Linked DNA regions of Homo sapiens: all the other regions are linked to region 3. The links come from fine-mapping of genetic effects on gene expression. A gene starts in region 3. Each other region holds a variant in brackets. All regions are shown on one strand. Distances are between the middles of the regions.

The links. PIP is the estimated chance that this variant, and not a neighbour inherited with it, causes the effect.
Region 1: its variant is fine-mapped to the expression of EDEM1 in tibial nerve (GTEx, PIP above 0.99). The same link has a PIP of 0.9 or more in esophagus muscle, subcutaneous fat and testis.
Region 2: its variant is fine-mapped to the expression of EDEM1 in whole blood (INTERVAL, PIP above 0.99).

The regions. Positions count from the first base shown.
Region 1 is chr3:5,121,076-5,132,139 of GRCh38, reverse strand. It overlaps ARL8B (ARF like GTPase 8B), which reads right to left and starts at 9,848. Exons shown (of 7, transcript NM_018184.3): 1 at 9,552-9,848. The coding sequence starts at 9,674. It overlaps LOC124906212 (a long non-coding RNA gene), which reads right to left and starts at 9,081. Exons shown (of 2, transcript XR_007095800.1): 1 at 8,424-9,081; 2 at 3,325-3,680. RefSeq lists silencers at 6,102-6,396, 9,783-10,042. The variant T/C (reference allele first, on the strand shown) is at 6,229.
Region 2 is chr3:5,212,093-5,222,216 of GRCh38, reverse strand. It overlaps EDEM1 (ER degradation enhancing alpha-mannosidase like protein 1), which reads right to left. Exons shown (of 12, transcript NM_014674.3): 11 at 8,695-8,898; 12 at 2,259-6,388. The coding sequence ends at 6,299. Among named protein-coding and RNA genes, the nearest start is that of EDEM1, 29 kb to the right of the region's middle. RefSeq lists an enhancer at 8,332-8,833. The variant A/G (reference allele first, on the strand shown) is at 4,917.
Region 3 is chr3:5,181,328-5,192,391 of GRCh38, reverse strand. EDEM1 (ER degradation enhancing alpha-mannosidase like protein 1) reads right to left here and starts at 4,685. Exons shown (of 12, transcript NM_014674.3): 1 at 4,078-4,685. The coding sequence starts at 4,586. RefSeq lists silencers at 2,580-2,699, 3,897-4,186, 4,237-4,406, 4,647-5,056 and enhancers at 3,697-3,746, 6,168-6,227, 10,250-10,299.

The DNA of each region.
Region 1 (11,064 bases), 60 kb after region 3:
AGGAAGGAGGACAGCTTGAGCCCAGTAGTTCAAGATCAGCCTGAGCAATACAGCAAGATTCCACCTCTACAAAAAAACAAATTTTTTTAATTAGCTGGGCATGACGGCACATGCCTGTAGCCCCAGCTACTCAGGAAGCTGAGGCAGAGGACTGCTTGAACCCAAGAGGTTGAGGCAGCAGTGAGCCATGATTATGCCACTTTACTCCAGTTTGGGTGACAGGGTGAGACCCTGTCTCAAAAAAAGGAAAGAATGACAGAAAAATTCAAAGGATAAAACTAGTCAAATCATTTCATTTCTGAAATTACCGGAACTCTGAAAAAAAGACAAAAACCAAAGTTAAACATTTCAGTCACTTAAGAGTAGAAAATAATGGCAGTAACCAAAATATTCATATAAGGGTTAATGAAAACCTGTAACGTCAATTTAATATTTTTAAGAAACGGGTAGGCTGGGTGCAGTGGCTCACACCTGTAATCCCAGCACTTTGGGAGGCCGAGGTGGGTGGATCACTTGAGGTCAGGAGTTCAAGACCAGTGTGGCCAACATCGTGAAACCCTGTCTCTACTAAAAATACAAAAATTATCTGGCCATGGTGGCGTGCGCCTGTAACCCTAGCTACTCAGGAGGCTGAGGCAGGAGAATCGCTTGAACTCGGGAGGCGGAGGTTGCAGTGAGCCGAGATCGCGCCACTGCACTCCAGCCTGGGTGACAGAGTGAGACTCTGTCTCAAAAAAAAAAAAAATTTTTTAATTTTTTTATTGAAATAAGATTGCCAAAAGCTAGAAACGAAATAGCTAAATTATGAAGGAGAGAAATGTAGGTTTCCTTTCTTTTCCTAGATTTTCCTCTGATAAGAACTATTTACAAATGATGAAGTCCATGTATTGGCATTAAAACATTCTCCGGACAAAATGAGCTTTCAAGAAAATGGTGGCCGGGCACGGTGGCTCACACCTGTAATCCCAGTACTTTGGGAGGCTAAGGCGGACAGATCACAGGAGTTTGACACCAGCCTGGCCCACATGGTGAAACCTCGTCTCTACTAAAAATACAAAAATTAGCTGGGCGTGGTGGCGGGTGCCTGTAGTCCTAGCTATTCGGGAGGCTGAGGCAGGAGAATCACTTGAATCCCCGTGCCACTGCACTCCCAGCATGGATGACAGAGTGAGACTCCATCTCAAAAACAAAAAAAGAAAAAGAAAAAAAAGAAAAGAGCGAAGAAAAGGCAGGCCTAACTATGTGTGTAGCCTAGATTTTAAGCAACCTCATTCTTAACATTATGCTACATTTTGCATACTGAAGTAAGAATATAGGTTCATAGGCTGGGCGTGGTGGCTCATGCCTGGGCCGAGGCGGGCGGATCACTTGACGTCAGAAGTTCAAGACTCGCCTGGCCAACGTAGCGAAACCCCATCTCTACTAAAAATACAAAAAATAGCCAGGCGTAGTGGCGCAAGCCTGTAATCCCAGCTACTGGGGAGAGGCTGAGGCAGGAGAATCATCTGAACCCAGGAGGCAGAGGTTACAGTCAACCGAGATCATGCCACTGCCCTTCAGCCTGGACAACAAAGCAAGATTCCATCCCCCCGCCAAAAAAAAAAACACACACACACACAAGCAAGCAAGCAGCATCCCACTATAATAGGTCCAAGATTAGGTAAGGATTATACTGAAATATATCAGGGTTATGGAATATGCAATCTACCAATACTTCTAAAACAAAATAGCAGCATGATAAGTAAAGGGGATGAGCTGTATTTATATTTACATGGCTTGCCTGGGAAGCTCAACAAAAAAGAACTATGTTCTCAGGGGCAGGCGTGGTGGCTCCTGCCTGTAATCTCAGCACTTTGGGAGGCTGAGGCAGGAGAATCTCTTGAGCCCAGGAGTTCCGGGACCAGGCTGAGCAACACAGTGAGATGAAGTCTCTACAAAAAAAAAATATATATTTTTTTTTAAGAGAATATGACCTTGGTCAGGTGCAGTGGCTCACGCCTGTAATCCCAGTACTTTGGGAGGCCAAGGCAGGCAGATCACCTGAGGTCAGGAGTTCGAGGTCAGCCTTGCCAACATGGTGAAACCCTGTCTCTACTAAAAATACAAAAACTAGCTGTGTGTGGTGGCACGTGCCTGTAGTCCCACCTACTTGGGAGGCTGAGGCAGGAGAATCACTTGAACCCAGGAGGCAGAGGTTGCAGTGAGCCAAGATCATGCCACTATACTACAGCCTGGGTGATAGAGCAAGACTCTGTCTGAAAAACAAAAAAGAGAGAGAGAGAATGTGGAGAATGTGGCCTCACTATGTTGCCCAGGCTGGTCTTCAACTCCTGGCTTCAAGTAATCCTCCTGTCTCTGCCTCCCTAAATGCTGAGATTACAAGCGTGAGCCACCACACCCAGCAGCAAAAATCTTGTTTAAAAAAATTAGCCAGGCGTAGTGACATACGCCTGTGGTCCCTACTACTTGGGAGGCTATGGTGGGGGGATCTCTTGAGCCAGGGCCCAGGAGGTGGAGGCTGCAATAAGCCATGATCATGCCACTACACTCCAGCATGGGCAACAGAGCAAGAACTTGTCTCAGAAAGAATTATGTTCTCTATAGTTATCAGTCTTGGCAGTTGCTGAAATATAAAAAGGAACTTCTTAAAATATATTAAACACAAACAGAGCAGTATCTAATAGGATAATTTTAAAATACCGTTCTACTTCATCAACAAAACTATGTTTGTCCTAAAAAATACCAGAGGACAAAGTGCTTAACCAAAGTCCAACTTTATATATGAAATCTGCTCAGTATTAGCTGGGCGAGGTGGCAAACACCTGTAATCCCAGCTACTTGGGAAGCTGAGGCAGGAGAATTGCTTGAACCCGAGAGGTGGAGGTTGCAGTGTGCCAAGATCACACCACTGCACTCCAGCCTGGGCAACAAGAGCGAGACTCTATCTGGAAAAACAAAAAACAAAAAACAAAAACTGTTCAGACCTTCTCAGTGGGAGTGTACACTTTCTGGAAAGCAATTTGGCCATATGACATAAAATGCGTTTTTGACCCAGAAATACCAACTCTGGAACACATCCTCAGGAAGTGCAGATCAAATTGAGTACAATAGGAAAACATAGGAAAAATCCCTCAAATGTCCAATAAGGGAATTACCAAATATGTTATGGCATATCCACAAGACATACCACAATGGAATAAACTATGAAGACATGAAAAATGTTTTAGATAGAAAAATGCATACACTGTAACAATTAAACCAGAATATAAAGCATTATAAGTAATATTATCTCAGAACTTTTTAAAAGACATCTGGATATACACATTAAGAAGACAAAAACGAAATGCTTTTAATGTTGACAGTAGTTAATCTTGGATGGTAGAAATAAGTGGCTTCTTCTACCTTATACTATTCTTTTCACATCTCCGCTAATGAGCCTGTATTGTTTTGATAACACAAAAAAAATTTCAGAAAAAAAATTTTTTAATAATATTTGAGTAACTTTTTTATAGGTTCAATGTATTTTGTATCCATGTTCAGTAACCATCCACTTACTATATCTTTGAAAAACTTAAAAAATCCATTAACTTGTGAAATATCTTCTAAGACAGGCATTTAGAATGCATTATTGCACTCTAACAGCTTCTTAATGAGAACATTTGGCTTTCAAGATTCTTGGTCTGCAAGGAAAAACAAATAATTGGAGCGGGGATGAAGGGTAGAAAACTTTATGGAAGGTAGAGATGTTCCTTTGTAAGATGCCTCATTTTCCACAACTCAGAATCTATACTTGAAGACCACCTTATTGGAAGACTAGCTTCTCCAGTCAAGTTTCAGATGTGTAAAACATCTAGACTTGAACCACAGCCCATTTTCTTTAAAAATGGTTTTTGCCATTCTTACCTCCAAAGAAATTAAATAATAAGCAATACAATCAAATACAAAATTATTTCTGCTTTTTTTTTTTTTTTTTTTTTGAGACGGATTTTCACTCTGTTGCCCAGGCTGGAGTGCAGTCGCTCAATTTCGGCTCAACGCAACCTCCGCCTCCCAGGTTCAAGCAATTCTCCTGCCTCAGCCTCCTGAGTAACGCCAGGCTAATTTTTGTATTTTTAGTACAGATGGGGTTTCATCATGTTGGTCAGGCTGGTCTCAAACTCCTGACCTCATGATCCGGCCGCCTTGGCCTCCCAAAGTGCTGGGATTACAGGCGTAAGCCATTGCGCCTGGCCCTCCGCTTTTTTTTTTTTTTTTTTTTTTTTTTTTTGAGACGGAGTCTCGCTCTGTTGCCCAGGCTGGAGTGCAGTGGCGCAATCTTGGCTCACTGCAAGCTCTGCCTCCAAGGTTCACGCCATTCTCCTACCTCAGCCTCCCGAGTAGCTGGGACTACAGGTGCCCACCACCACACCCAGCTAATTATTTGTATTTTTAGTAGAGACGGGGTTTCACCGCATTAGCCAGGATGGTCTTGATCTCCCTCTGCTTTTTAAAGATACTAAAAGTAGTTCAACAACTCAGTAATGCCTGTTAGCCAGTTATTTAAATATCCAAACATAATATTCCACTCTTACTTTCCACAGATTATCATTCCTTCTCCTAATTCATGTTCATAGATAAATATATAGTCCTCAAATGTTAGTCAGTATGCTTAAGATGCCTGGATTTAAAATGCTCTCTCTAGAGAGACACACAGTACTCATTACGTCTGTATTTCTTATTCTATAAAGCAAACATTTCATATACGATACAAAAACTGCAGCTGATTTTTTAAATTAAATTAAATACAAAAAAGATGTTTAATGGATTAAGATCTCCCAATCCACAGTTCTATGGTTCTAACCTCAGCTGGATCTAAAGAGGTGGGAAAAGTAGAAAGTACACTGGCCCCAGATTCTAATTCTATCTCTGCTACGAATTAGCTTTGTTGCCTTGGAATTCCACTTAACCTCACTGGATCTGCTAGCCACATCTAAAAAATGAGGGGAAAATTAGACTACTTAATCAAGGTTTCTACAAACTCTTTAAAAAATGATTCTAGGTTCATATTTCTACAGTCTTCCCAAATATCTTCTTTTCCTAATTCTCAGCAGTAATAAACTTTCCCTTGGATTAACCTTTCAGGTATCAACAATGTGCAAAAGTGTAGACAAATTTTTATACTTCCATTTAAAAAATACATAATGTCCATAAGATTTATCCTATATTATTTTGGCAAATCCTATTAGATATTTTTTAATAACTATAACATATCTAAAAGCCCCAGTTAAAAATAAAGATTACTCAATATACATTACACATATAGGCACATGACTTATTGTGCAATAACTGCCAGAACAGTTAGCAATGGAAAAAATACTTCATTCCTTGACACTAATCAGAAAAGACAAGACTAGGGTGTTTCTTTTTTATAATGTTCAAAACAAAAGAGAACACTACATATATCAAGTGTCTCTACATAAAACTGGATTAAATTAGGTATCATTTCAGTTTTAAAATCCTAAGGAAAGGCATTCTAAGTCTGAGCATTCTGTAACTAAGCTGCATTATCTTTTAGACTCAAACCAAACCCTACATATAATAGTAATTCAGTCTCATGAACCTTTTGAGTAAGTTAAATGACATCTATTAAATCTTCCTTAATGTTTAAGGCACATGTAGTGACATTTTAATGTTTACAAAATGTTGATTTTTACAAAAAGAAAATTGGCTTCAGCTGAAGCTTTTCATACCTGAGAAGTCGCTTCTTAAATGTGAATAAGTAAATGGTCACCTTTCTAGAGTGACACATAGTACTCAATACATCTGTATTTCTGATTCTATAAAGCAACTATTTTATATACAATACAAAAAGTGCAGCTGATTTTTTAAAAGGCTAAACTTACTATTTTGGACACATTGTTTCTACCTAAAAATCTCTAAAATCATCTTTAATCACTAACTTGGATTTTAATCACTACATCCTCAACATATTCTATAAGAATCAGGGGTTAGGTTAGAGCCTTGAGGTTAAAAAAAAAAAAAAGTATGAAATTCACTGAGGGGGTCCCTTTCAGCATCTTAAAAGCCACAGCCAATTACAGCCCAGATGTCTTTTTTCTTTTTTAAATTAATATTACTTTTAATTGACAAATCATAATTGTATACATTTATGGAGTACAATGAGATGTTCTGATACATGTTTACAGTGTGGAATGACTAATTCAAGCCAATTACACATCCATCACCTTA[T/C]CTTTGTGACTTTTTTTTTCTTAACTGAAGCTACCCACACCATTACAATTTTAAAAAGAATAGTCTAATGATAACAGTGGGCTGGGCACAGTGGCTCACGCCTGTAATCCCAGCATTTTGGGAGACCAAGGCAGGCATATTACTTGAGACCAGGAGTTCGAGAACAGCCTGCCCAACATGGTGAAACCCCGTCTCTACTAAAAATACAAAAATTAGCTGGGCATGGTGGCAGTCGCCTGTAGTCCCAGCTACTCGGGAGGCTGAGGCACGAGAATAGCTTGAACCCAGGAGGCAGAGGTTGCAGTGAGCCAAGATCATGCCACTGCACTCCAGCCTGGGCAACACAGCGGGACTCCGTCTCAAAAAAAAAAAAAAGATAATGGTGGAGCCACTGGTTCACTTTGACTTCAACAGCTTTGCAGAAGTTTTGTTGTTGTTAAATATAATAATCTAATGGTGGGGGCGGGGCAGGGGGGAACACATGATGCGATTACTTTCCCCAATCCATAAATCCACTACTGCAGCCCACATCTGGATAGATACAGTGATTCAAAGTAGAAAATGATACCAGTTGAGTCCCTTCTCAGTATTTTTCAAGCCATCGTTCCTGCATTAAACAGGTACGCCCAATTACAAATAACAACAGTTACCATCTACCTATCCCCTTCTGTGGGCCAGTATGAGTGCTAGCCACTTAACATCTTTCATGTCATTTAATCCCTAGAGCAACTCTGTAAGAAACATATCATTACCTCCATTTAATAGATGGGAAAGTAAGGACTCAAAGAGGATGTAAGGCTGCTAAGCGGCAGAGCCAGATTTCAAATCCAGGGCTGTCTGACTTCAAAGGTCATGCTCATTAAGCTACACTGTCTACTGAAAACAGAAGCATAAAAATCACCAAGAAGTTTCTCAAAGATTTGCTCAACTTTTTAGAGTTCCCAAGCATAACAACTCAACTGCAACAAATACAACTGGCTGTATTAATACACCTATCCACATGAAACATTAATTCCATGTTGTCAAAGAGCAAGTTTTACAAGATGACTCCAATTCTCATCTCAAGGGGATATGAGAAAATTTACAGTTAACTGAGCTCAACTTCACTCAAGCTTATGCCTCATCTTTTCCATATTATATAAAAGCTCTAGCAGGCTTATAATCCCAGTATGCTGGGAGGCCAAGGCAGGAAGACTGCTTGAGGCCAGGAGCTCAAGACCAGCCCTGGCAACATAGCAAGAGCCCGTCTTTATAAAAAATAAAAATTAAAAATAAATAGCGAGCCATGGTGGTAGCACATGCCTGTAGTCCCAGCTACTTGGGAGGCTGAGACAGGGAAGATCACATAAGCCCAGGAGTTGGAGGCTGCAGTGAGCTACGACTGCACCACTGCACTCCAGTCTGGGTGAAAGCTCAAGACCCTGTCTCCAAAAAAGAAAAGAAAAAAATTCTAATATAAATATGTAACCCGAAGTTCATGTTTCCTCATTAATTTTAGTGGTATTAGGCCAGGAACGGTGGCTCATGCCTGTAATGCCAGCACTTTGGGAGGCCGAGGCAGGAGGCTCGCTTGAGCCCAGGAGTTCAAGGCTGGCCTGGCAACATAGGAAGATCTTGTCTCTACCAGAAAAAAAAAAAAAAAAAAAAAAAAAAAATTAGTGGTATTAGATACACATTCCACTCTTCTATTCCTGCGGAAAGATAGTCATTCCAAGCGCAAAAAATCATAATATTACAATAGGAGGCCAGGCGCGGTGGCTCACACCTGCAATCCCAGCATTTTAAGAGGCCGAGTCGGGCGGATCACATGAGGTCAGGAGTTTTGAGACTAGCCTGAGCAACAAAGCAAAACCCATCTCTACTAAAAGTAATTAGCCGGGCGTGGTGGAGGACGTCTGTAATCCCAGCTACGCAGGAGGTGGAGGCAGGAAAATCGCTTGAACCTGGGAGGTGGAGGTTGCAGTGAGCTGAGATCTCGCCACTGCACTCCAGCCTGGGGGACAAAGCGAGACTCCGTCTCAAGAAAAAAAATTAATAATAATACTACTAGAAAAGGAGCCGAACAACAAGCAGGTAAATCTTCCTTATATACATCATTCTTCAAAGGACTTTGGGGTTTCTGCTAATCTCTTTTTCTCCAAGACTTACTCATTCCTGTTGCTTTATTAGTGCAAGGACTAAGAATCACAAGTTACCTATTTTCTCAAACATGAAAGCTGTGTTTGAATCATCTTGTGTAACCTAACCAGTCGGACAGCTAATCTTCAGGATTTCAACAGTCATCGAAAAGGTGGAAGAACTGCTGCCATCTCTCTTCAGAACAGTTCTAAAACTCCCCTGGCGTGTACAAGCCACTACCAGCTAAAACTGAGTCACAACAACTCTTGGGCTCTAAATAAAGATCGAGGCGAAATCTTTCACTCCTATTTATTTCCCAACCAACCAAACAAGCAAAACGAAACAATCACCTTTCTACTCAATCATTGCTGAACAAACACCACATTCTATGTAAGTCCTCAGTGCAATTTTCCTTCCACCCATTCCCTAGGCCTGCTAAGCTATGTTCCTGCCCAGTACCTTCTTTTCTCTTCAAGTGAAAAACACCATTTAAAGACCAACTCCTCTTTCGCAGGGTAGTTAACTTTATGCTAACTGCAGATCCATCTTATCTAGTCGCTTAAGACAATTAACTCTTAGCTTAATAAATACTATGTATTGTGGGCTAGCTGGAGCTCAGCAATGAGCTTGGTCTCCGCGCCTGGGGGACGGGTGAAAACAAGTAACTGAATTAGATGGGACCAGCGGCCCACAGAATTCAGGAAGGCGCTCACACTGGTCTCCCGCTTTCACAATGGGTCTATTGGTCCAAAGTGGCAACTTAAGAGAGGCTCTTAATGCTTACGCTTTCTCGTACGGCTGACGGATTTGCCAAATCCCACCCTTTGGGAAAGTGACAGACTGGACTTAACTCTTTGGCTGCCCCTACTGGGCAAACCCAAGGGAAACCCCAATCCCCAAGCGCTTTAAAAATGTGACGAGTTCAATTTAACTCTTTCCGAGCCCCCGCGGCGTTGAGGACACAGCCCTTGGAAAATGTCTACACTGACTTAACCCTTCCGCTGCCGATCTCAGTGCTACTCCCCGCGCCGCCAACACGCGGGAAATTCCAAATGCTGGCCCTCGGGAGATGACAGGCCCAGCTTCGCACGCCCCCCGCCATCAGTCCCATCGCGCCGAGGGGGGCCCCAACTCAGGCCTTGGAGAAGCGCCGGGCCGGACTCCTGGCTGCGGAGCCCCGGGCGAGTGAGTGGGCGGGCGCTCACCGCGATGACATTGACGAAGGTGGTCTTGCCCGAGTACTGCAGCCCCACGAGCGTCAGCTCCATCTCTTCCTTCCAGAAGAGCGAACGGAACCAGTCCAGCAGGCGGGAGATGAGCGCCAGCATGATGGCGGCCGGGAGCGAGAACGGACGGGAGGACGGACGAGCGGCGGCGTCGACGACTTCCACACGAGCGGGCCTCCGCCCGGACCCTCCAACGGCTCCTTGGTGCCCCGGCGCGACACGGGCGGACACCGGCGGGCGGCAGCAGCCAGACCCAGGAAGCCGAGCGGATCATATGACTCGCCCTACCCCCCACGCCCGTCCCGGCGCCGCCGTCGGCACCCACGGCAAGAGCGGCGCGGCCAATCCGGCCAGGCCCGCCCGCCGCTGGCATCGCCACCTGGTGGGCATGCTCCGCAGCACAGCGTACCCTCGGGCCCCCTTGAGGCTTTCTCTACATTCATTCATTGTTGGTTCATTCGTCATTCATCCACTTATACATTCGTTAATTCATTCATTCATTTTTTGCTATAATTGTTCATTAACAATCTGCAGGAAGACTTCAAGACTCTGGAAGAGTTGGCGTGGAATAAAAATTCCTGTCCTACATTTTTGGTAGTAGCAAAAGATAGTGTTAACTTAAAAATGACACCGTTTATAAATTTAGAAAGGAGAGCATTATTTCTTAAGAAGGGGATTATAAGCTGTAGGCAGGACGTGCAGCCTCGGGCCAAAAAAAACAAAAGTAAGCACTTTGAGAGAGGGAAGGGTGCAACAAGAATTTATATTGAGGAGTTGGCCAAGTAAACATATTTAACTTATGGAAGGAGCTATTAATATGTATGAAGGTGGTCTTACACACATAGTGAACAAATCTGTATGTTGCATATGACCTATGTTCATTTGGGGTGGCGACTTAACATTTAAATGTATTATAATCAGGCAGGGCGCGGTGGCTCATGCCTGTAATCCCAGCACTTTGGGAGGCAAAGGTGGGCAGATCACCTGAGGTCAGGAGTTTGAGACCAGCCTGACCAACATGGTGAAGCCCCATCTCTACTAAAAATACAAAATTAGCCGAACGTGGTGGCATGCACCTGTAGCCTCAGCTGCTTGGGAAGCCGAGGTGGGAGAATTGTGTGAACCCAGGAGGCGAAGGTTGCAGTGAGCTGAGATCATGCCACTGCACTTCAGCCTGGGTGATAGAGTGAGACCCTCGTCTCAAAAAACAACAATTAAAAAATAAATAAAGTAAAAGTATTATAATCAGGCCCTCCACATCAGAAAGTGAATCAGGGACGGGAAAGGTATTGAAGTGCTTGGCCTCTGTAAAACCAGCCAGAACTGGGCTGGGCGCGGTGGCTCACAGCCTGTAATCCAAACACTTTGAGAGGCTGAGGCAGGTGGATCAGGAGGTCAGGAGTTTGAGACCAGCCTGGCCAACAAGGTGAAACCCCGTCTCTACTAAAGATACAAAAAATTAGCCCAGGCCGGGTGCAGTGGCTCATGCCTG
Region 2 (10,124 bases), 30 kb before region 3:
AGCATTGACCCCATTTTTCTGGAGTCTGTGTTCCCTGGGTAACCGGTTATTCCCGGCTTTGGGATCTAATAAACTCTTAATCATATATCTAATATACTTCATCATATTTTCTGAATTTCATCATTTAAGGTTGACGGCATCTAAAAGAGAGCGTCAGGCTGTTGCTTCCAGTGGGTTCCGCTGTGACAGGAAGCAAGATTGTTTACTTTCCAGGGTTCTCTGCTGGAGAAATGGAATCATAGAATTTACCGCTCAGGACTTGGGTGAGGTTTGAATGTAACAGGCTTTTAAACCATACACACATGCACGTGAGTGCACACAAGCACATAGACAGACACACACACACACACACACACACACACACACACAGAGCCAGAGTGGGGAGGGACTGTTCATTCTTTAGGCCACTGACTAGCAGACTGGGCCAGACGCTTAAGCACAAAGACCAGGTGTGCTGGGGCACAGGTACCACCACACCCAACCACTCTGCACCTCCTGGTCTGGGTTTCTGAGTTAGGAAGACATTAGCATACTTCCTTGATTAAAGAAGGAAAAAAAAACTTTAAGGGACAAAGAGACATAACCTGTAAACATTTTAGCAGCTGCCGCCTCACACGCTGACAAATGTAGCTTCTAATTCATTTTGCCATCACGGGAACCCTAGGAGTTGATGTGCTATCATCTCTGATTTTAAAAGTGAGGACACCGTGTGAAGGTGAGTGCCTTGACCCAAGCCACACATCCAGGACAAAGCCAGGAGGCCAGCCCAGCCTCCCCATGGCCAGCCATGTTCTTACTCTTCCTCCAGCATCCCTGTTTAAGCCCTAGGTCTGATCCTGGATGTCAAATCCAGCTGGACCATAATTATAGGAAACACGTTAAGTGCCTTACACATATGAATCCACCCAGTCCTCACAACTATCCTGAGTATGGGCTATTATTATCAACCCATTTACTAGACAGGAAAACTGAGGCCATCAAGTCTGTAACTTGCCCAAGGCACACAGCTAAGTTAGGGGTAGAGTTGGAATTGTACCCAGCACCGTGTGGCCCAGAGTCCCCATACTCCACCCGACACTGACTACAGCGTTCATACAGGACTGCTGGGCTCCACTTGCTCCACAGATGGCAAAGGGCCTGGTGCTCCCACTACTGAGGCAGCCTGGAGTGGGAAAGGCAGGAAGGCAAGAACCCTGTGGCTCTTGATTTGGTCCCTTGGCCCACTGGACTTGCTTGGTTTTGTCAAGATCACAAACCCACAAGACTTGACAAACACAACCCCACCACCCCTCACAATAGTAGAGCTCAATGTGGGCAAGGTGTTTCCAGCCTTGAGAGTCTCTCCTTCGCCCTGTCATGCTTCGTGGCCTTTAAAAAGGCCCATCAGGCGTGGTGGCTCATGCCTGTAACCCCAGCACTTTGGGAGGCCAAGATGGGCAGATCACCTGAGGTGAGGTGTTTGACACCAGCCTGGCCAACATGGTGAAACCCCGTCGCTACTAAAAATACAAAAATGAGCCTGGTGTCGTGACACGTGCCTGTAGTCCCAGCTACTCAGGGAGGCTGAGACAGGAGAATCAGTTGAACCCAGGAGGCAGAGGTTGCAGTGAGCCGAGATCGTGCCACTGCACTCCAGCCTGGGTGACTGAGTGAGACTCTGTCTCAAATAAAAAAAAAAAAAAACCCGTATCAAAATTGTCTGTGACCAAAGCTGGGACACAGATGTCACAAAGCAGGAGCAGGTCCCTTCCTCAGGATCCCACCATGGTCCCCAGTGGCAACACACAGGGAGGGAGGCCAGCCCTCCAGAACCCTCTACCCACACGCTTCCCATGGGCCTCTGCACCCACACAGACCGTGAAGTGCCACTGCTCTCAGAGGTGAGGAGAAATGAAGCGCCTTGCTTAGATAACGCAGAGAACTGGTTTTAGATCCCAGATACACTCAGCTAATTGGCAATAAGAATAGACAATGAACTCAGTGGCCAAGAGAAAGGAGGCTGATGCAGAGGGGAAGGCCAGGGCTGGGACAAAAGTCATGAAAAGCAGTTCTGACCTGCATGTGAGGGGCATTTAATGGAAGAGTGTGACATACAAAAATGTAGTGGAATTCCATGGGGGAGGTATTACTTAGGGCTTAGCTATAAAAAGCAAGGTTTTATTCATCTAGATGGGCACTTCCTTTAGAGACTTTTCTCCCATTTGTCTTGCATGTAATGTAATGTACATGAGAATGTAAAAAAGAAACAAGATGACAACTCAAAAAAAGAAATCTTTTAATAAAAATTACTCATAAAAATCCTAATAAATTTTAAAGAGCAAGATATTCCTTATTACATTTATAAAAGAACATTTGGTCCTTTTACAAAAAGATCCCTTTTAATTTAAATACATTTCTTATTTACAGATTAAACATAAAATATCATCTACAGTTGCAAAGCATATTGCACATTACAGAGAAGCATTTGTGTATTTCCGTAAGTTTTCCCAGAGTTTCCAACTCTATACTTTTTTTTGTAAAAAGATTTACCTTTCTTATGCAAAATAAATAAAAATGCAGCTTGTGTTTTGCTATTTAAAACTAAAACAAAATAACCTTTAAAAATATTATTCCTCTGCCTTGCAGAAAGAAGGAAGAGGGTATAGAATCAGGGAGTTCCACAGGTACTTGATATTTTTACCAGATTCACGTCCAGATTCAAGCGGGAGCATAACCCTGAGCCCTGTGAAACCTGGGACACAGGGCCCAGCCCGTCCCACCTCCTCGATTTCCCAAGGGGTCCCTGCCCTGCAGGGAAGAGGCACTAGAATAGGAGCTGGATGCTGGGAATGGACAGGAAAGCTCAGGATTTTCTTCTAAAGTTCCTGCTCAGCCACCCTGTGGCTAAGGTAATCACTCAGCCCTACCTTTTCACCAGCACTACATTTGAAAAAAGATTTTTGTTTTTGTCAACAGACAAAAAAAATTTATCAAAGAGAAAGGCCCCTGGTGCCCTCCAGAAAGCAGAAAGGAATGTCTCATGTTGAGTCTACACAATCCAAAGAGGAATTACAGGTGGTAATCATTCAGTAAACTGAACTACGAAATCATTAAGAGGGATATTTTCCTTTGGTGGGGAGAAGGGGAAAGGGGAGGAGGAAACAAGGCCCTCAGATTGCACAACTGCACTGACCAAACCAGGTACTTCTACAGACGCTCCTCTAATAGTCACGTGCACAGACACCATCCTGGTGCATTTTTCTTTAAATACATAGAAAATTATTTAAGTGTCACGTGCACAGTCCATGATCTAAAACAAGAAAAGCCCTGAGGATTCAGTTACAATGAGTAAGTTCCAGCACAAGCGCTGCCAAAAAAAAAATTTAAAAAAATGAAGGAAAGATTTGAATACAGAAGCTGGTTTTTCACAATGGCCAGTGCAAATGGAGAGCTAGCAAACCCTCCCTTGCCACCTATGATTCTAGAAGGGATTCCTCGGTCACATCAACTAAAGTAGCTAAGCTACTGTAATGATTTGAAAGTTTGTTATGAGAGAATTATGCTTTGTCAAGCCAACTATAAGGCAGCTTTCTACAACAGTTCTGCAAAATGTTTCCACCACACTGAGCAAAGCTGACACTAGACACTAGCTACACGTGGGAATAGGAAGATGGGCCAGGCTCAGAGCCGCCGCAAAGGATGAAGTCCACTCAGATTTGAGGCAATCCTGGGGCAAAGCACTGAGCAAAGCAACTTCTCTGGTAATCTCCTCCTCAGCCATTCTCTACCCAGTATTTCAGAACACAGAACAGAAGAAACTGCAAAAGCCCTGCAGGATATATCACAGCTGTTAACATTCTGACTTTAAAAAAAAAAAAAAAAAACAAGTAACCTTTGAAACTGGCTCAAAGAACCTTCTGGCATCCAGCCCCACAAACCACTGACTACATAGCATCAAACTTTGGACGGGGTAGTCTGGAAGCTCAACAACCAGGATTAATATGTACTAACTCACTCACCCTCAGTCTCACCCACTGGTATTAATTCCAGTACCCAGAAGTCAAGTGGGTTTGTGACTTAACATAAAACACGTTTCCTGACAGCCTGTGGCCCCTGGGAAGCACCTGCAGCATTGTGTAGTTTGCAAGCATGAGATCCCTATTCCCTATTCCAGGAGCATGAGGAGGAAGGAACACCCAGGCTTGCTCGAGTGACAGGCAAAGTGCCTCATTAAGAGAACACTGGAGTGCTTACCCACCACTGCCGCCACAGAAGCCAGAGCGGGAGAGGAGGGGAGCGCCAAGAGAAATCACAGGCAGGAAGAACTCACCTCCTTCTCTGAGATGCTCTATTTTCCCAAATGGGTCACTAACAGTCCCACCTGTTTGCCCAGAGACAAAGGTACAAGTATGCTCGTGTGTGCATGCATGCATGTGTGTGTAATTAACATTTTCAATGAGTCAGTGAAAACATTTAAAATATATATATATATTATTCTCAAAGTTTTCTATTCAGTAGATGGGACACTGTTAATAAACAGAATAATGCTTCTGAAATGAAAAAAGGTAAAATAGAAGCATTTTATTTTTTCTATTTTAAAACAATTGTTGTAATAAATGTTTAAGAGATAGAGATGGCACGTTTATTACTGAAAATACTCTTTTCAAAAATCTCAAAGAACTGAACTATATAAAACCATAACACTTAAAATTTTCAAGAAGGAATAAGATTTCTCCCTTTTGACTAAAAATGCAACATAAACTTAGACAGTGCTTATTTCTAGCTTTGAAAAGATGTACATGAAATCCTTAGAGGTGGGAAAACAGTGACAGGTGAGAACCGTGCTATGTGAGGCTGGAAGTTTTAGGGATTTCCTACCTTTTTTACTAGAATGCGTTTCCACCCATGACGCTTCATGGAAGCCAGACTAAGAGTCA[A/G]CCCTGCTGCACTGTGTAAGAGTAGCAGGTGTGTATCAGTGTGAGTTCAAAGAGAGATGTTCTGGCTAAGAAAATAATAACAAAAAAACAAAGGCATTTTAGCACAACTTCCTCCTTCTACATGCTTACTTTTACAGGATGAAAGGCAAAGACTGGCCAAGCAATTTCCATCCCCCTTTCACCACGGTCTCACCATGTGGCTAAACAGGCCTCCTGAAACCATAGCAGTAGCTGCGACATCCAGTGCCCCAAACCAAAACCAATATAAGGCACTAATCTAAAGCCTGTATTACACAGAGAAATGGCTCAAGGATGCTAAAAGTCATGTGATCATTTCTTTCTCCCTGATTTAGCTAATTGGCACTAGACACAGAAAACAGAAACAAAACAGAACTCTAACCCAAATATGGTCAGAAGTGAGAATCCTTGCTTAGGAAATATGAGAAAGATGGAAGCTCAGACAATCTTAGGTATTGTTCTCTCCCTAAAAGGCACCTGATTCTGGAACTATGGGAGTTCCTCAGGTAAGTTCATATTCAAAATGCAAAATACCACCCAAAAGATGTCAGTTAACCTCTTAGACCATAACATAATAACCTAAGAGACTATCTGTTAAGAATTCTGGTTAAGACCATTCTTCTTAAGCAAATAATTTGTAACACTGTAAAGATTACTTGAGGCAAACATGAAAAACTGGATGACTTTTTCTCCCATGTGATCCAAAATCACGGTTGGATATCAGGGGAAGACCCCAATTATCTAACAACAGAAAGGATGACATTTTCAATGCAATTAAATAGGGATACCAAATGAACCATGGGCCCTTTTGCAGAAATTTCATTCTCAATCCTCTAACAAAGAAGTAGCTAGCCAGGTACAGTGGTGCTCACCTGTAATCCCAGCTACTCGGGAGGCTGAGGCAGAAGGATCACTTGAGCCCAGGTAACCCTGTCCCAAAAAAATATCAAGACCCTGTCTCAAAAAAATAAAATATAATAAAAAAAATTTTTTAAAGACATAGCAATACTCCAGTATAGCAGGTGCCAGCAAAGTGAAGAGACTTAGGTTCTGAAGTATAAAGCTGTGAACATCAATCCAAAGATGCCCCATCTATTGTGCTTATAACATCAACATGTCATAAGAGGGCAATTTCCATGTATCTTCTCACTTCAAATTATATCCTTAACAGGGCATTTTATTGAACAGGAGAGAAACACTGAAGTGTGCAAGGATTAACCAGACGTGGTGAGGTGTTGCACAGAAATTCCTACACCACCATGGACAGCAAGACTTCTGTCCCCTTTCATTTCAGACTGGACTTTGGCATGGTCTGGGTTTGGTCGTTAAGGTCTGGTTCAAGATGAGGCCTCACAGAGAGCAGATCAAATCAAACCAACCATCTGGTCAATCTGTCGCATGTAGATGCTCTTTAAGGGCAGGGAGTACCTCCTCTCATCAGGTACACGATTGCACTAGAAAGACAAAAACGAGGGAAAATTAAAAACTCATATGTTGCTCTCTCAGGAAATGTGACTGGATGACTTAATCCAGGGTTTCTCAGCCTGTGAACTACTGACGTTTGGAAGTAACTGTTGTGGAAGCTGCCTGTACACTGCAGGACGGTCAGCAGCACCCCTTGCCTCTCCCACTAGGTGCCAGTGGCAACTCCTACGCCTCAGCTGTGAAAATCAAAAACGTCTCCAGACGCTGTTCCAATGTTCCCTGAGGAGCAAAATCACCCTCAGGTGAAGACCAGTGACATAATTTAACATCCTCACTCACTTTATAAAGAAATGGCAGATCCAGGGAAGCTAAAAGGCATCGCAGCAACTGCTTCGTGGCCAGGACTGAAAGCCACATCCCTGGGGTCCTTAGTCCGCCCAGAATTTCAGAAAACATTTCTGCTACTTGAAAATACTGTGTTTTTCTGAGCTATGTTTTTCTCATTCACAACTCACTAAACTCTAAATGCTTAAGACTATTTCTTTAATTAAAACCCCCCCACCCCCACCACTTTTTTTCCTCAAAGCAGATGCACATCTTGAGAACTAACCAACTGTGACATCCCTGGAAGCAGTTGTCTAAATACATTCATTATCTGCTTCATCTCCAAAGAAACATTTTCCCCACGCTTTGTAGTAAGTTGAACTTACTACACCCTGCTCCTCATCCCTGGCAAGATCAAGACTGGCCGGTCCTTCCATTGGTCCCGACTGCCCCCACCAGCCCACATCTCTGTGCTTTTGCAGGTGCTACTGCTTCTGCCTGAACACCCTTTCTGGGATACCCCTTTTCATCCTTCAAGGATCTCCAGCAAGTGACCTCCTCAGGGAATCCTGCCTTGATTTTCTCTGGAGATTACTCCCTACCCTCTGTGTTTCAACAGCACTACAGACAAACGCCTAGGATGGAAGTGGATTCCCCACTAGGCCATGCTCCTATCCAGAACCGGGAGCCCTTCTGAGGGCCTGAATCCCTGGTGCCTGGAATCATGGGATCAGATCTATTAGTGAGTATGGCAGGTCAGAGATGTCTCCTTCCTAAAAGAGAAGACACTGCCTGGGTCCAAATCCTGGCTCCACTGTGGGACCTGAACCTCTCTGTGCCTCCCTTTCTTCAGCTGTAAAATGGAGATGTTAAAAGTAACCACCCCTCACAGGGCTGTTGTTAGAAGTAAACAGATTAATGTACGTAAGCGTTTAGAATGGTGCAAAGGCTAACCCTGGTATGTGTTTGCAAATGCTGGCTGTTATTAACTCTTCCCCCTCTCACCCTCCTTCCCCTTCCTCCCGATTATGCTTTGTCCACTCAATCAGCGCTCCATGACTGATGGAAATGGGGGCGGGGGTGGTTATCTACACTCTGGCCTATCGATTTACTTCATAGACTGATGGTGAAGACCTTCACTGGGGCATTAACGGAAAAGCACTGAAGCACAGTCGGCGATGAGAGGGCACCCCTAATGCCAAGGCAACCCATCTGTGGGGAGGCTGCCGAACTCCTGACCACCAAGGCCCTGGGGGATAACAAGATTTGAAATTTTGACTGACCTACATTTCCCTATCCTCACTTCCAAATCATCCTATTTGATTCAAATCAACACAACTACCTGATACTTTCACTAGGGATGCAAGGACTTCCATTTCCAAATTTTTCCTGCTGCTTCTCAGGACAATCTAGGCATGTGGAGTAAAGCCCCACTTTAAATGAATGTGGGTGTTTGCTGCACTTCGAAGAGCATCTTCATTGGGACCATCGTGACCATCACTGCTTTTTTTCCCTTCTGCTGCTGGTAAATGATTTTGCTGAATGTCTTCCATTTGCCCCTCCAGGTCCACTGATGGATCATATCAACAGGCTCCCTCGGCCTCCAGCTTCTGCCCCAGGCAGCCAAGAAGATGCTCCAGCAGGCAACTGGGGGAGCGGGGAGGGGTCACATGTTGACTCTGCCGGCTCCCTCCAGGCAAGGCCTTGAAAGTCAGATCTGAGCCGTGGCTCCTGCTGAGTGCTCGCTCCTCCCACAAGGCTCCCCCCTTCCAGGATCCTGTAGCCACTCTCCCCACCAGCACCTGCAGCCAGCAGTGATGATGCCACCGCTGCTCCTGCGGTTTCCCTATACCCTGACAACAGCTATGTAAATGGTGTCTTTAGGAGGTGTTTTCAAATCTCCCAATCTGCATACACCATCAATTTTCTGTCAGGAAGTCTGAACAACTAAGCAATTCATAGTATCTTCTCTTCCTCTATATGCAAATCACCCCTGGAAAAAGCAACTCACGTTGGAGCTGGAGTTGATGACTTTTAACTCATGAGGTTTCGGCCTGTGCACAGACTTTCCCCCTTGGTCCTGCCCTCCCTCTTCAGAGAAGAATTCCTTCCATGGCAATTCCCGAAGATGCTCATCCACAGATACAATGTGTCCCTCTGTTGTGAACATGTATCTGGTTCCAGACTTGTGTACTGGATTGTCTTCATCAAACAGCTAGAGGGAACGGAGAAAAAGATACAACCAATAATTGTAGCACACTGGGAACTGAATCATGGGGGCGTGTCCCAGCTACTCAGGGAGTAGAATTTGCTTGGGCCTCATGCTTCTCAGTGACAACTGGGTGAAAAGGAATTGACTGACAACTGTGGTGCCCAACCCAGGCTGCAAGGCAGAATCACCTGCTTCATCTAAACTCAGATGCCCAGACCTGCCTCTCCCCTACACATACCCTGCCCAGACGCAGAGACTCAGAAATTCTGAAACTAAGGCCCAAGCACAGGTAGTCTATAAAAGTTCACTGGATGATTTCCATGTGCTACCTAAGAGTTCTCCTGCTGGAATTCTAGAACTACACCCAACCTCACACACACCTAGACCCTGAACTGTAAATGCTGACAGGGAGGGACCAAGTTTTATCCACCACCATTTCCCCAGGGCCTAGCACAGAGCCCAACACATCTGCCAACATTCACTTCACTTCTTGCACAACAAGGGTTGGGCTCTGAAGACGCAATGGACACAAGGCACAGTCCTTTCCCTCAATGGTGCATGTGACACGGAACGAAAGAGCATCTAGAAAGAACATCTAACCCAATATGGGATGCAACAGTGCAGGAGAAGGCAAGTGTTCTGTGAATGTTGAATGAATGAATACCTAGAAACTCTTTGAAACTTTATTGGTCACCTAAACTATTTCAAGATGAGGAAAAATGAGATTCAGTGCAGCTTGTCAATGTTTACACAGTAACAAGAGAAGAACAGGGTAGACCACAGGTTTTCCTCTCCCCAGACTCTAGGTTCTTTCAGCTAGCACACCCTCCAGGGTCACCTTCCTTTTACTCTAAAACTCGCCCTGTTAACGTCCTTCTGACACCAGTGGCTGCTGGATGGAAATATGTAGCTAGGCTCTGACCAGCCTGATTTAGCAGAACTGAGCCACCTGCAAGGAGAGCAAGAACCACTGCACACACAGGAATCGACAGCAGGACAGCTGTCTTCCCACTGGACAGATCACATGGGCTGCTGGTGGACATACCTCTGCAGTCATCTGTGAAAAGACCCCAGACAGAGAAGAGTATCGTCTTAATGGATTAGACCAGCAGCTCCAAAACCTGGCTCATGTGAAACCACTGGAGGCACTTGTCAAAATGACAGATTTCTGAGCCCGCTTATTCTGAAGATTCTGACTTAATATGGCTGTCATCTTAGCAAGGGCCCCA
Region 3 (11,064 bases):
TGTTTTTAAATTTAAATTCCCATGTATACTTAACCTGTAACAGCTGTTCAGAAATCTACCTGGTGTGGTGTAGGCACAGAGATAACATAAGAAACAGTCCCTGCGTTCAAGGGATTGATAATCTGGAGAGACAAGACAAAGGGAAATGCAGGTGAATACACAACAGTACTCAATCCTCAAATAAGGTTAAAATGTAGAATCGCAGCTCAAAGGAAAGGAATCAAAAGAAGAACTGAGCAAATAAAGGAAAATCATCTTCAAACAGTTAGATGGTGTCACGGAAACAAGAGGAGCCTGACTCTGAAAGAGGGCAGGACTTTCCAAAGAAAGAGGAATGCAGAGGAGGCCATCTTGAGCTAGTAGTACCTAAGCATTTGAGGGGCCAATATTTGTTTGGCTTAATTTGAGATTTGTTTTGTTGTTTTAATAGCAATACAGTTGAGAAGAAATTGAGAATGGTCACATGCCCAAAAGCCAGAACTACAGTTAACCATTCACAGGATTACAAAAATATAATATCCACATTTACTCAAAGAAACTTTAAATTTGGATCCTCCAACCCAAATTAAGGATGTGAGAACTGACTTTGCATAGTTATCTTAGACAGATCTGCTCTTTTTAGAGTGTTCAGGTTTTATTCACTTCATGTTAACTCCTTACCTGATACCTCCCCAAGAACAAGTCACATGTACTTGAGGCAAGATAAGTTTGGAGCATATATGACTACAGAGAAACGGTAAGAGTGTTTAGCACCGAAATTTTCTATGTGTACTTTTTATATAATACTCTAATGGCAAATTCACTCTTGTTAAATGAGTCATTAGAATACATTTGATTTTTTAAAATCTGAAAGATTTTTGGCTGGGCTTGGTGGCTCACACCTATAATCTCAGCACTTTGGGAGGCCAAGGCGGGAAGACTGCTTGAGGCCAGGGGTTTGAGACCATCCTGGGCAACAAAGTAAGACCCCACTTCTACAGAAAAATTAAAAAAAAAAAAAATTAGCCGAGCATGGTGGGGCACACCTCTAGTCCCAGCTATTCGGGAGGCTGAGGCAGGAGGACTGCTTGAGCCCAGGAGTTCAAGGCTGCAGTGAGCAATGATTATGCCACTGCACTCCAGCCTGGGTGACAGAACAATACCCTGTCAATTAAACAAACAAACAAAAAATATGAAAAATTTTTATTACAGATTATTTAGTTTGGGGATGTGAAGTACCCTCCTGTTTCAAAGCCAGCATGACAATACTCTGGTTTTAAACTTTCCTCAAGGCCTAGTATTCGATAGCATAACAGGAGGACTACAGTCAATAATAATTTAACTGTACATTTTAAAATAACTAAAAGTATAATTGGATTGTTTGTAACACAAAAGAAAAATGCTTGAGGGGTTGGATACCCAATTTTCCATGATGTGATTATTACAAATTGCATGCCTGTGCCAAAATATCTCATGTACCCTATAAATATATACACCTACTGTGTATCCTCAAAAATTAAAAATAAATTTTTTTAAAAAATATTTAAAAAAAAGCAAAGCCTGAGAGGAGTTAAAGGAAGGAGAGTACAAAAAATTAAGTTTTCCACTGTTTGTAAGTGGCAAGTGTGAGGCGTCCATGCAAGGCTTCTTTGGCCTCCTCAAAGACAACAAAGGTTTACCAACCAACGGGCCTACCCAGCTCAGGGCACAACCCTTCCCTAATGCCATCCCCACCTCCTCAATACTTCTAAAACCCTCTTTCCAATAACACATCTGTCTCAAAGCAACCTGACCTTAACTTACGCATAACCAAACCAATGCATAACCAAACCAAAACACTCATCGGCAGCCTTCATCCTGAAATAAAGGCCAACAGCACACATGATACCACAAAGACCAGCAAGTTAAATCAACCACCACCTCACTTTGCTGGGAAGGGATTCTTAAGGTTCTCCAGAAGCGCTTTTAAGGTTCATTAAGAAAAACATTAAAATGTCATCAACTCACTCTCCAAACCGTCATATTCTCAAATGAAAGTGTTATCACAATTCCCCGTTAAACTGTTTTCAACTTCAGTCCACCTGATAAAAGGTAATCTGAGAAACAGTCTGTGAGCAGGAATAAAGGCACTTATTGGAAGTGCTCTCTCCCTTCTTGTAATACCAAGAGCACTAGTGGAAAAGCACAAATTAAGATCCAAAATATGTACACATACTATGATTGCAACTATGTAAAACATGCATAGACATATGGGTAGGAACTAGTGGCAAAAATAAATTTAAAATAGCTGGTGGGATTTTATGATATTTTTCAAACTTTAATGATGTTGATTTAAAAAGAAAAAACATCAAAGCATGATGTAGGCTGACAACAAAAAAAAGACCACAATTAAATGAAGTTTATCCCCCCCCCCAAAAAAAAAACTAAGAAAGAAAATACATTTATAGGTATAAAGTCCCCTCTAGTTAAGTGAGCCAAATAATTCATTCATTTCTTAAAATCTGGAAAGACCATGGCCGGGAGCGGTGGCTCACGCCTGTAATCCCAGCACTTTGGGAGGCCCAGGCGGGTGGATCACGAGGTCAGGAGATGAGACCATCCTGGCTAATACGGTGAAACCCCGTCTCTACTAAAAATACAAAAAATTAGCCGGGCGTGGTGGCACGAGTCTGTAGTCCCAGCTACTCGGGAGGCTGAGGCAGGAGAATCACTTTAACCACAGAGGCGGAGGTTGCAGTGAGCGGAGATCGCGCCACTGCACTCCAGCCTGGGCGACAAAGCGAGACTCCGTCTCAAAAAACAAACAAAAAATCTGGAAAGGCCAAATACTTTTTTTTCAAAATTTAATATTTTTTCTCAAAAAAATTGAGATAGAAAATACACTTATACGTATAAACGCTATGGTTAAGCAAGAAAAACTCATCGGTTTCCTAGAATTTTGAAAAGGCTCAGTCCTTTGAATTTAGCTTGGGATGTCCCCTTGCTTCGGTAGAAATCATGCTCTCAAACTGCAATTTAAAACATAAATGTGTAAATAACCACACCATTTTAAAAACCCAACTCCGTTTAGTCTATAGGCTTCCTTATCAGAACCTAAGGACTGGACTCCACTGCTTTCCTCCAGGTGAAGGAAAATGCTTGCCCCAGACGGTGCCAAGACACTGAGCAAACCAACTCCTCCACTCCCATCCAGGGGAGGGGAGTCAACTATTTGGACTAACAGGGTCTATGGCAATGCACATTCCTTCCCTACAGGTAAGAGGTCCTTAGCTGGGTGTACTGCCCTCTTGGACTTTGATGTCAACAGTGGTGACCCTTGGAGCTCAGCCTTTGCAAACAAGGCTGGTGAACAGGGAAGACTGCCTGACCTTCCCGGACAACCACGCCACCAGAGGCGGGGGATTTATAGACAGATCGTACAGGGCGATGACGTTGACAGTCAATCTGGCATCCAGTGAATTTCACCTCAAGTATCTGGACCCCAAAAGTGGGCCACATAGCTTCCCTCCCCACCACCTAACTATCCTCAGCCTAAGAAGCAGCCCCTGTGAAGGAGAGGCTGTAACCCCGTTCTGCCTCAAACTCAATGGACGGCTTTGGAGAAGTCAACTATAGGCTTTTTACATAGAAAAGACGTGGGTGTGGCAATGTGATAGAGGTGGGGGTGCGAGGTAAAGGCTTGTTCTGAGGCTGCGTTTACACGGGGGGCATGATGGAGATTTCATTTAGAGTTTATGCTCATCCGGAGGAAGGGGTCGGATGGAAGTGGAAAGCCCTCCAAGCCAGCCCTTGGCACTGCCACTGTCCCTTCTGGTCCTGGACCTCAGTATCCTCACGCGTAAGACACTGAGCTGGACAGCAGTTCTGAAGTTTGGAGATTCCGGGAGAATCAGGAGAGGAAGGCCACCGGCCCACCCCGCACCCTCAAGCTCGGGGGTCTTCACAGGGACTCACACGGGACAGGGCGCGGGAGCGCTGCCCGGGACCCTAACGGCCCTGGCGCCCTCGGGGGCCCCGGAGGACAGAGGGCTGCACCCCGGCGCGGAGGGCGGAAGGAAGCGCGTGGGCGCGCGGCCCCGGGCGGCGGGGGCTACTCACGGGTCCCCGCGGTCGGGCCCACGGCCGCGGCAGTGGATGGGGTTGAGCTCGTCCTGGGGGAAGGCGTGAGCCATGTAGTTGTCGTAGCCAAAGACGAACATGCCCCGTGCCAGGTCGCGCATCTGGGCACGCAGCTGCGGAGGGAAGGCGCCGCTGTAGCGCTTCTCGTACTCGTCCGGGCCGCGGCCCCGGCCGCCCAGCACGTAGCCCCAGTTGGCTGGGCCGCACATCCCCGGCCCAGGACGCCGCGGAGCCTTGCGCGGGCTCTGCGCTGCCCCGGTCCCCGGCGGCTGCAGCCACGACGGCCCGGATACCCCCCCAGGCCGGCCCACGGGCCCCGAGGTGGGCGACGCGGGGCCGTCGGGGCTCCTCAGACGCTGGAAGCCGAAGCTGAGCGGAAAGCGCTGGTAGAAGCCCATGCTGGGCCCCAGCCCGAAGACGAGCCACAATACTCCATGGAGGCCAAGCCGGAGGAGCACCAGCCCCAGGACGAGCGCTCGCCATTGCATGGTCGCGCGGGCGCCGCGGGCATTATTTTAAAGCGCGGGGGCCTCCCCGCCGACCACCGCACCCCGCGCTCGCCCCGTAGCCCGGCTCGCTTCCCCTTTAAGGAACTCCCCCGTGACGCACCAGGAACTAGCCCATCGTCCCCAACCCCCAGGCTCTCCGGCGGGCCGGCCAGGCCCCACGGTCGCCCGCCCAGTGGCCCGGGATTGGCCCGGCCTGGGCCCGGCCTCGCGGGGCGCGGCCCAGGACTCCCTCCCACGCAGTAGGCCGCCAGGACGTCCGCGACGCCCCGAGGCCCCGCCCCTCACCCGGGCCCCGCCCCAACTCCCAAGCCCCGCCCCCCTGGGCGGTCCGTAGCCCGATGGGCTGGCGTGGCGAGCAGGAGCCGCGCCGGCCCGCGAGGGAACTTCCAGCCAATGGGAGAGCGGCACGGCAGCGCCCGCCGGACGCTGGACACAGACGTGACCCCAGACCGCCTGGCCTTGGGTGGATCGGGTCTCTGGGCAGAGCGTGTGTCCGGCAGAGCTAGGACCGGAAAAAGCCACTCTAGGTCTAGGTTAGGAGTGATGACAGTTAAAAGATATATAAGGAAAAGAAGGAAAGGATCGTTTCTGTATAAAACGAGCTATTTTTGCATATCGAGCGCATAAGTTTTATAACTTAGGTGTCTGTTTATGGAGAGGGTGGGATACTACCTTTTAGCTCAAGGAGTGCACAAAACGGTATCATGAATTCTGCTCTTTTGATTCAAACACCCAACTTTGAAGAATCGCTCATGGTGCTTGTAAAACACGTATCCCCAGATCCCTCCCTAGACCTATCGAACAACTCCAACGGTCTCGGGAATGTGCGTGTAAGTACTCTTGGACAGTTCTTAGAAACTGGAAGTTTCAGGAAATACAAAGTTATGTTATATTGCTTTTGTCTCGGAAATAGGATTTTTTTAAAAGGGGGGGGCGGGTTGGGGGTGGGAATGAAGGCTCCCACCACCACCAAATTATTTACCAGATATATCTAAACATGTCTTCTCCTGTCCCTCCCATCCTACCATCTCTCCTGTGCACCCGCAATTAGTGACCTAACCTTTGAGGTGTGGGGTAGATTCCCAGTTAAATAACTTTACCCCTCTGTATCTACTTCCTATAATTAAGAAGATTGCAAATGTTAGCTCTAAAGGGCTATGGCTTTCACATAAAGATTCAATGGTTTAGGCGCTTATTTATTTTGCTTGCTGCATTTGGAGTTGGCTGTAAGTTTTGCCCTCCCTAAGTTTAGACCCTATGCCTGTTTCATCAGGGTTTCTGAAAAGCTTGGGAAGCAAGACCTGACTAGACCCCCAAATCTGATATTGGCTGAATGGCCGACCAATGGAGTGCATAAGAAGGTAAGTTGTCATGTGGCACTCTCATCACATTTTCAGGGTAGAGGACTTTCTGAAATACAGAGGAGGTGTAAGGGGAACTAAGAAAACACTTGATTACAGCACATGGTAGCTGGCACATAGGAAGGTCCTTACTGTTGGCTGAGCCTTGTTCTTTCCCAACATTGAGACATCGAGAGCAGCCCAAGCAGCAAAAAGATTACGAAGACAGCTTGAGCCAGGGTCTTTAGACTACACAGCTTCTGCTTTTTCCCCTCTGTGAAGGATGCCTAGGGACTGTGCTGGCAGCCCAGCTCCAGCCCTTGATCCTGAACTTCTGCCTTCCTGGAACTTGCAAACTGAATGTGAATATTCAGTTGCATGTTGCATGTTTCCTTCCGGGGCTACTTTATTGCAAATTTTAACTTAAATTTGACCTGGTTAACTGCAGGCCACATTGAGGACAGCTTCTGTCTTGATGTTAGAGAAAAACTCTTATAAAAATAAATCTTTTAATAACCAGAGAAAACCATCCAACTCCTGAAAGATGCTTTTCATAGTAAAACTGATGGTTTTCAAAACACTTTGACATGTGTGCTTATTTAATCTTCATAGAAAACTGTAAAGCTTATTCCACAAGCCATAATGGAAGAAATCAGGTTGGGGGCTCAATTCTCAGAGCCTGTTGGCTCTAGGCAGAAAGGGAGTTACTACACTTTAGGGCAATTTGCACTTCAAATAGCTGGCCCTTGAGCAGACAGGTCCCTCTGCTCTTTCCAAGCCACCCAAAAGCAATAGTTTTGACATTAGTGCCCTGCAAGGCATAGCCTAGGCATTAGGGTCTAGGTTCAGAAAGTGTTTCCTTCTGGAATGAAACTGAAATGAAAGAAATGGGTTATTTTGTGCTAGTCCTTTCGATTAGGACTCTCCTTAAGCTAAATGTACTGATAAGATTGGGACAACACCCATACCCAATCAGAAAACTCCAGTCTTGAAAATCAACTCTTTAAGATAAACAGTTTGATTTGTGACAGGTTTTCCGGTAATCTCACAAGCGCATCAGGGACTGATAAAAAAGGAAAGGAGGCACTTTTTCAGTGTAAAAATGGCTTTACTCTGGGGAATGCAAAGAGATGACAACTAAGAACTCACATTCAGAAGTCAGGTGTTCAAATCGTAGCTCTGCCCTAAGAGTGACCTTGGGAAGTTACTTTTCTAGGACTTGTTTCCTCATCCATAAAATGGGTGAGTGATGAGGACAATGTTTATCACAGTTGTGATTACATCATATATATATATAAAGTACTTACAACCGTGCTACATAGTGAGACCTATTAATACTTTTCAACTCTGAAACTTTTAAAACTAGCACCCGGCTGGGCGTGGTGGCTCACACCTGTAATCCCAGAACTTTGGGAGGCCAAGGCAGGCAGATCACTTAAGGTCCGGAGTTCAAGACCAACCTGGCCAAAATGATGAAACCCCATCTCTACTAAAAATACAACTACCCGGGCGTGGTGGTGGGCGTCTGTAATCCCAGATACTCAGGAGGCTGAGGCACGAGAATCACTTGAATCCAGGAGGCAGAGGTTGCAGTGAGCTGAGATAGCGCCACCACACTCCATTCTGGGCAAGAGAGTGAGACTGCGTCTCAAAAAAAAAAAAGTATTTCAAAAGCAGAGGTTTTGCAAAGCTGAAGGCCTAAAAAAAAGTATATAATTACAGTTCAAACTTATTTGATGGGCACAAATCCAAGTTTGTCAACATGCTCTGTTAGCAAGATACAGGATACTCGAGAGGCTGAGGCAGGAAGATCCCCTGAGCCAGTAGTTTGAAGCTGCGTTTCCTATGATCGTGGCTGTAAATAGCCAATGCAATTACCTGGGTAACAGTGAGACTTCATCTCTTTTTTAAAAAGGCATAGGGGACTGGGACTGGTAAAAACAAAAACTAGTACTTCCCGTGTGAAGGGTCATTTGGCAATTCCTAGTGTCAGAAAAAAATTACAACAAATTTACTTACAGATCTAACTGGCGTTTATTCATAACTTATGAATGGGGCAGCCTCCATTCTACAAAACAGAATGAAAGCTCCCAATGAGAAACAGCAGAATAGTGGGTTTTGTAAGATGAGAGCAAGGAAACAAAACAATGAAAAATAACTGATTGGTTAACATCGGGTTACTTTTTTTTTAAGGGTTAAAGAAGAAGGGACTTCCTTATTATTCTGATTCAGACAGACTGGGATTTTCTGTTTTCAGGAAAAACTGGTCTGTAAAGTTTCCATGTAACTGTGTGGCACTTAATATATGTAACTACTTTGGTCTGCTAGGACCTAGTGCAGAAACTCAGTCCACAAACAATGACCCCCCATAATTTTGGTTTAACGTTAGCACAAGTCGCCAGGCGCGGTGGCTCACGCCGGTAATCCCAGCACTTTGGGAGGCTGAGGCGGGTGGATCACTTGAGGTCAGAGTTCAAGACTAGCCTGGCCAACATGGTGAAACCCCATCTGCACTAAAACTACAAAAATCAGCTTGGCATAGTGGCACATGCCCGTAGTCCCAGCTACTTGGGAGGCTGAGGTAGGAGAATTGCTTGAACCCAGGAGGCGGACGTTGCAGTGAGTCGAGATTGCGCCACTGAACTCCAGCCTGATGACAGAGCAAGACTATCTCAAAAAGGAAGAAAAGATAGTGAGATTCCCTTCTAGCAGTTCTAACACCAAACCACTGAAACAAATATATGAACTATACATCAAAAATATTCATCATGCACATGCCCATACCATGCTCTAGCCTTTAGGTTACTGATGCTTCCAGAGAATATAGGAATTCTATAAATCCTTAACCCTTCTTTGAATGAGGGCTAGCGCTTATAAATTAGCTAATAGTATGACAAATAAGAGCAATTTGAATTTTTCTTACAGAATAAAATATACAAATGGAAGAGTTATCTAATTCACCTATTGGGTAGTAGATAGAAATGGTGAATTCTCTTAAGCCACAGAAACAAGCTAGCACATTGTGTGATACACATTGTACAACACTGAGGGTAAGTCACAATTGTAGATAAGAATTGGTTAAGGGAGATGCTATAATTAGCAAGTGGTTAATGTTCTACTTCCCAAGTCCAAAAGGGGATACAATGGTTTTGTTGGTCCTCCAGCCCCTTTACTTTTAAGAGTAGTATTTTCTAACCATTCCAGGTTTCTCCAAAGCTCTGGATAAATTCTAGCAGAACCTAGCTGGCCGGGCATGGTGGCTCATACCTGTAATCCCAGCACTCTGGGAAGCTGAGGTGGGCGGATCACAAGGTCAGGAGATCGAGACCATGGTGAAACCCCGTCCCTACTAAAAATATTAAAAAATTAGCCAGGCGTGGCGGCGGGCGCCTACAGTCCCAGCTACTCGGGAGGCTGAGGCAGGAGAATGGCGGGAACCCGAGAGGCGGAGCTTGCAGTGAGCTGAGATGGCGCCACTGCACTCCAGCCTGGGCAACAGAGTGAGACTCCATCTCAAAACAAACAAACAAAAAAACCCCCAAAAACCCAGCAACACAGCAGTTATAAAGGATTAAACCTTAGCTCTAAACCACCTACCCTCAAATTGGTAGTAGGTATATACACTTTTCTGGAGTGCATACCAAACATTTTCTGCAGTCTGGGGAAAATGTTCTAAAATTTGTAAATGCCTTTCAAAATATAAGCCGGTATATTTACAGAATTTCCTTCAAACAAAATAAATTTACTGTATCATTCTGTAAAATGTCTGCAATCTCCAGCTTTTGTGCTAAAATTTAAAGTTGTAACATGTAAATATTTCTGTATTTTTGAATTACCTTCTATTGAAGGAACATGTAATATTAACATATTCACTAGGCCAAATCGGTGTTTTTGTATCTCTTTTTAACCACCAAGCAAATTTCTAGGCTGCTAGAATCAGCCTGTCAGTGGCAGAAGTTATGGTTAGAAATCCTCTCCTGTTCATTTTATAGATGGGAAAACTTAAGGAGCCATGAGGGGGTTCTGCAACTCACCAGTCACACAGTCAGTTAATGGCCAAGGAAAGAACCCATTCTCCCAAATGCCAACCCAGTACTCTCCACAGAATTAAGCTATATTAGCATCGTAAGCTAACAACTCTTTTCCTACATCCCTACTGTAAGCCCCAGTAAAATGAAGCTAAAGTATCTTTTCCCCCTCCTGATTATTGGGAAATCTGCATTACCTAAATGCCAGATGCCTTGGGATTTCAAAATAGAATTATCTTACTGAAGAGAGGGCTGGTTAATAGAATGGAATAATAAATGACTACTGCTGTGGCTTAGATTTTTAAGAGAGTCCTATTGCAGTCTGTCTACCATGACAATGACCTGCTTTGGTTTCCCTAAGAACACCCAAGAGGAGCAATGACAAAAGTACACATTTTTATTAATAGCTGAATTTTAAACAGCCAATGTGTGGAGGTTATTTACTAACCAACAGGAAACACCTGCAGCAGGCTGCATACTTATAGAGCAGCAAACTTAAGGGAAGTCTGTAAGGCTTTACTGTCTTCCTTTTCAAGTCTCTTCACTGCTATGCACAGTTGAGGGCATAACCTTAAAAGTCTGTAACATAACAAAAACATTTTAAACATCAAACATCGTGCTTTCCCCACTGTGGCACATTTTTAGAGTAAAGCATTTGGCCAACTGGATGTTACAGCATGATGCCCACTACATTATGTTTAAGCTTCCATTCCAGTTCTGAACCCACCAGACCCTTGGAGCAGCTGGAATTACCAAATCAACAGGGTATCAGTGTAACTCAATCCTACATGGAGCAAACAGACAAAGCAGTTAGTTCCTCAAACACCCAATTTACTTGACAGAATCAAAGACCAACTTTATAAGTTTAGAAGTTTTTAAAAGCAGATACACATTTAGAATTAAGCTAAATGTATATCCTCCGTGTTCCCCCATCCTCACCCTCAACTCTCACACACTCACCCCCTTGGTAGGAGAATGGTGAGAAGTGGATGAAACTTGATGCTTGACTACATGGCTCCAGTAATGCAGTGAAAAGACAAAAACACATCAACGTGACGTTCCAGGGAAATAAACGCGAAATCATGCATC